2 separate regions of the Homo sapiens genome follow, and region 2 is linked to region 1. The links come from fine-mapping of genetic effects on gene expression. Tissue or cell type: cerebellar hemisphere. Region 1 holds a variant in brackets; the other region holds the start of a gene. All regions are shown on one strand. Distances are between the middles of the regions.

Region 1 (2,857 bases):
TGAAGGCTGCACTGTCAGCTTCTCTACTTTTGAGGTTTTGGGACTTGGACTGATCCACTACTGGCTTCCTTGCTCCTCAACTTGCAGACGGCCTATCGTGGGACTTCACCTTGTGATCGCGTGTGTCAATTCCCCTTAATAAACTCCCTTTCATATATACATGTATCCTATTAGTTCTGTCCCTCTGGAGAACCCTGACTAATACAGCAGGTATGGAGAGAGTTTATTGGGGACTGACTTATGGAGAGACAGAAAAGTCACCTCACCTTTCTGGCTGAACTCACGAGTCACAGAATTTTTTTAGTTATGATGAAAACTGGGAATTCTCTTCCTGCCATATACACAAGGATCTCCTTTCTATTTGTGGCTGCATAGTTAGGGAACTCTATGAGACAGAAAACATCAGACTTTCCTTCATGAAGGTATCAATTTCCCTTAAGAATCTTGGCCTTCCATAAGAATGATACAGTGGAATTTGGGGACTCTGGGGAAAGGATGGAAGAGGGAGAGGGATAAAAGACTGCATTGAGTACAGTGTACACTGTTCGGGTGATGGGGGCACCAAAATCTTAGAAATCACTACTAAAGAACTCATCATGTAACCAAACACCATCTGTTCCCCAAAAACCTATTGAAACTTAAAAAAAAAATTTAAAAAAAGATTCTTGGCCTTCAGGTCTGGTATTCTATTAATCCACTACATCAGGGTTTAGTAATGGGTACCATTAGTTAAAATACCTGAAATGTAATATGTTCCTTAAATGAAGATAGGCTTTCTGTGACCTCTAAACTCCTGTACTTCAAGGCAACTCATTTAGAAGCTAGAACATCTATTCTAATATAAAATTGGGAAGCTCTAACAACATAAAAATATCTACTATGTACTTGAATGCATCTAATGTCATACAGAGAGCTAATGGAGAAGTCATCTGAAAGCTCCCAATGTCAGTCACTGAGGCCCACTGTGGACGCCAATTATTTTGTGGAGAAGACAGAAAAAGTGTAAAGAAAGGACCAAAGCCATGTATATACTTTTACCCTTACCTTTAAGATGTTTAACTGATCTCTTCCTAATTCTCAAATGAGTAAAGTAGTGACTAAAGATTAATGTCAGATGTATTACCATGTTTTTTGGTTTTGTTTTTGTTTTTACTTGTTTGTTTTTGTTTTTTGAGATATAGTCTCGTTCTGTCACCCAGGCTGGAGTGCAGTGGCACGATTTCGGCTCACTGCAAACTCTGCCTCCCAGGTTCAAGCGATTCTGATGCCTCAGCCTCCCAAGTAGCTGGGATTACAGGCGCACACCACCACACCTAGCTAATTTTTGTATTTTTAGTAGAGGCAGTGTTTCACTATGCTGGCCAGGCTGCTCTCAAACTCCTGACTTCCAGTAATCCGCCTGCCTCAGCTTCCCAAAGTGCTGGGATTACAGGCATGAGCCACCCCACCCAGCTCTCTTACCATGTTTTTATCTTATGTTAAAAAGGCATCAAGATTTATCA[T/C]TGTTAGAAGAGAAGTTGTTATTTCATTGGAGGAGGTTGATTTTCTGGTGCAGATACATTCTCACTTGAAGCTCACAATAGCCATATTCAGGCAACTGTGGAAACACTACCTGAAAAGCAGAGAGTACCGCTGATCCTCACCATTACACCATGGCGTCTCACTGGCTTACCCAGCAATGCTGAGTGAGTATTGCTCTCATATACGTTTTAAGGATGGCAAGAATAAAAAAAATAAAAAATAAAAGAAACACTGCTATTGCAAAATTTAAGAGTTCAAAGAGGCAGTGGTTTTCACTAAGTCACCTAGACCATGAGTACAGGAAGTAAAAATAAACGTAGATTTCCTACCACCCAGTCCAGAACTTTTGCACTATAGCACATATGCAACCATACTCACATGTGCACATGCACACAGAATAACAAGAGCTCAGCTTTACAACTGCCAGGCAAGAAATGCACCACGTTACACTGAAGAAGCCGTGAAAGCAGAAAAATCAATCTACCATTTTAATGAAAAAATGTGAGAAACTGAGATGAGGTATGGTGCAATCACTTTGGGCAGATTTGGCTGTTTGGCTATTAATCATTTCTCTACTGTGCAGTCAGCACAACTAAGTCTATTCAGCGTATTGTTGGGGCCACTGTAGAGACGCTGTAACCAAGTCAGATGAGATTATTAAACCATCATTGTATCCTAAGGACCAAGAACTGTGCAAAAAATTGCAGTTTTCAAGTGAAAAAGATTAACTCTAGGAAAAAAACAATCATTTTCCCCAGGACTGGAATATTGAAATTTCCTCACATGACAACTTACATTCTAGCAATTACAAATCTTGGATTTAAGATAAAATTTTATACCAAATCTAAAATCAATCTTCTATCACTTTCTGTTTAAAGAAAGTACAAATAAGATAATACCTTATAACCTCTCATTATAAGCTATTATCAGGTTAATACTTTATAATGAGAGTCTTAAATTTGCTTATAGATCTAATTATTTTTCTTTATCTTTGCCTTCTGCTCCCAAACTAATTTAGAGACCTCAGTGACTGCCTCAGAGGCCATCACACTATCCTTCCTAGTGTTTGATACTTACAGAATCATTCTGCTGACTACTGAGTTACCTAGAGAATACGGAGTATTTTCTAACAAGCCTTTTAAATCCACCCATCTGAGCCTATGGTATTAGTCAGAGTTCTCTAGAGGGATAGAACTAATAGGATAGATATATACATATATAAAGGGGATTTTATTAAGTATTAACTCACATGATCAAAAGGTCCCACAACAGGTCGTCTGCAAGCTGAGGAGCAAGGAGAGCCAGTCCGAGTTCCAAAACTGAAGAACTTGGAGTC
Region 2 (2,656 bases), 370 kb after region 1:
CCCCTGCCCTCACCCCGCCCAGCCCCCTCGCCGTCTCCCACCCACCGCACTCTGCACACACACACACAGATCCCTGCCTGGGGCCGCCCTCCCTCCCCTCAGCCTTCACAACACAAACACACGCTCCCGCGAGCACACCCACGACCACACCGGGAGCCCCGGCCGGCCGCTCAGCCTCGCCGGCCCCGGCCCCGGCCCCACCGCCTCCCCACACGCCGGGCCGCCCTCGCCCAGCCACTCGACACACTCGGACGCACCCACGGCCACTCCCATCCCCAGCGCCGGTCCCAAAGCCACACCGCACGCTCGCGCCCTGCCCTCCGCCCTCGCTCACCCTCGGGCCCACCCCTGGGACCCCCACGACGGGGTCTTTCCCAGCCCGGCCGACCGCAGGGACCACGAGGGAGGCGGCAACGGAGGGGTGGGAAGACCTAGGGCCGGCTCCGACCGGTCCTACCTGAGCAGTTGATGCTCTTGCCTTTGCCGCCGGGACAGTCCCCGCCGCTGCCGCCGCCACCACCCGGGGGCTGGTTGGACGCGCGGCTCCCGGGCAGAGAGAAGGCGAAGAGCAGAAGCACCGACGTGTAGCAGCAGAAGGCGAGCGGAGGCGCGGCAGGCAGCCGGAGCGGCGCCTCAGCGGCTGCGGCGCCCATGACTGGTGCCCCTGGACGGCGGGAAGCGCAGGGAGCCGCAGGCCGGGGGCATCCAGCCGCGCGCCCAGAGCCCCGCCGCTGCCTCGGTGCCTCCTAGCAGCCGCGCCGCTGAGCCGGGGAGCAGCCCGTCAGCATCCCCGCCCCACCCGCAGCGTCCGCCAGGCCCGGGCCCGCGGCGCTCGGGACGGAGTCGGCGGGTCCGGGCGCGTGCGAGGGTCGCGGGCGCGCAAGGGTGCGCGCGAGGGTGCGAGCCGGCGTGGGGGACACCGCGGCGAGGGGAGCGGGCGGGCGCGCGCGCGGCGGGCGGGGGTCGCGGGCCGGAGGCAGGCCCAGCCTCTTGCTCGCCTCCTCGCCTTCCCTTTGTGTCCGTGGCCGTTGCCACCGCGTCACAAAGACCCCGGCCCGCCCGGTGAGGGGCGCGTGACGGAGCCGCCGGCGGGAGGGGTGGCTGCGACCCCGCCCCGCGCACACCCCCAGCTCCCGCGCCGACAGCTCCGCCCCCGGCCGCGGCCGGCGCCGCCTCCAGGGGAGCTATTGTTCCTGCGACAGGGCAGGGGCGCGGGGGCCGGGGTTGGGGCCACCCCTCGGCGGTAGGCTGCACCGTAGCAGACTTGTTTGCCGCCCTTTGTGAGCTGTTTTTGAAGCGTTTCCTTCGCCCAGCAGCAGGGCTGGGAATGAGGGCAGGTGGTCTGTCATATATCTATAATAGTTTTTAGGTGGAAGAAACTGAGTCACGGAAGAGGTAAAGGTGACTTGTCCAAGGTTGCATACCAAGAAATGGGCAGGACCAGGATGGGAGCCCAAGTTCTGACTCTAGCCATGCAGTTCTCAGAGATGTTGGGTGAATGGTTAGATTTCTAGGTTCCTCATCCCCACCTCATTCCCGTAGACTCACATACAAGTGAGTGAAAATAGTTTTACAAAAGTCTGTGTTGCCCTCTCCCCCTAACAAAAGCTGAGATTCAGAGAGGATTTTCTAATATACAAGGCCTGGTGAAAGCTCTTTATGTGCATTCTCTTCAATTATTTTTTTACAGGCCTCGGAGGGAGTTTTCGTTCTTATCTCCATTCTACAGATGAGGAAGTAGGGACCCAGAGAGGCAAGGTGATCTGACTCCCAGTCCAGTGCTCTTCCTACCACATCCTGCTAGGTGATAACTAGACATAGGTACTAAGATCATGGACTGAATTGTGTGAAAGTCCTCTGCCTTTTTCATTCTATTATATTGCATCCCACCCCAGAAGGAATTTTAAGTCTCATTGAAAAACTGATCAATTTGATTCATAAAATTAAGAAATGTGTGAAAAGCCACCGCAAGCAAAGCCACATTAGGAAAAATGTCTTCAGTGCAAATATGAGACAATATACTTAATATAAAGTTATATGTCAAGAAGAAAAAGTTAACATAATAGAAAAATAGGAAGCTTGACTCTTATTCACAAAAAGTACAGACAATAAATACATGAAAACAGATTTGAACCCACTAGTAATAAAAGATTAAAACCACAAAACTCTGGCCAGGGGCAGTGGCTCACACCTGTAATCCCAGCACTTTTAGAGGCCGAGGTGGGCGGATCACCTGAGGGCAGGAGTTCGAAACCAACCTGGCTAACATGGTGAAACCCCGTTTCTACTAAAAATAGAAAAAATTAGCCAGGCATGGTGGCGCGCACCTGTAACGCCTATAATCCCAGCTACTTAGGAGGCTGAGGCAGGAGAATCGCTTGAACCCGGGAGGTAGAGGTTGCAGTGAGCAGAGATTGCACTATTTCACTCCAGCTTGGGCAACAAGAGCGAAACTCCATCACACACACACACGCACACACAATTATTTTCCCTTTGGATGATTAACAAGAGTTAAAAGAATTGGCAGACTGAGCACTACTAATTTATACATTTTAGGAGGGCAATTTGACTATGTATCAAAAAACCTTTAAAATATGTTTACTCTTTAGCAATTCCATTTATTGGAATTTATCTAAAGGATAACTGGATAAGCACA

Evidence for each region. PIP is the estimated chance that this variant, and not a neighbour inherited with it, causes the effect. A credible set is the group of variants that fine-mapping cannot tell apart.
Region 2: TMEFF1 starts here. The variant in region 1 is the best candidate, but not a certain one, in a credible set for the expression of TMEFF1 in cerebellar hemisphere (GTEx, PIP 0.83).

What each region holds. Positions count from the first base shown.
Region 1 is chr9:100,844,157-100,847,013 of GRCh38, reverse strand. The region is part of intron 3 of LOC105376179 (a long non-coding RNA gene); the gene reads right to left. Among named protein-coding and RNA genes, the nearest start is that of PLPPR1, 180 kb to the left of the region's middle. The variant T/C (reference allele first, on the strand shown) is at 1,503.
Region 2 is chr9:100,471,542-100,474,197 of GRCh38, reverse strand. It overlaps TMEFF1 (transmembrane protein with EGF like and two follistatin like domains 1), which reads right to left and starts at 1,049. Exons shown (of 10, transcript NM_003692.5): 1 at 458-1,049. The coding sequence starts at 653. The region is part of intron 1 of MSANTD3-TMEFF1 (MSANTD3-TMEFF1 readthrough); the gene reads right to left. LOC124902237 (a long non-coding RNA gene) reads left to right here and starts at 1,308. Exons shown (of 3, transcript XR_007061702.1): 1 at 1,308-1,395; 2 at 1,691-1,821. RefSeq lists silencers at 264-423, 734-793, 1,074-1,233.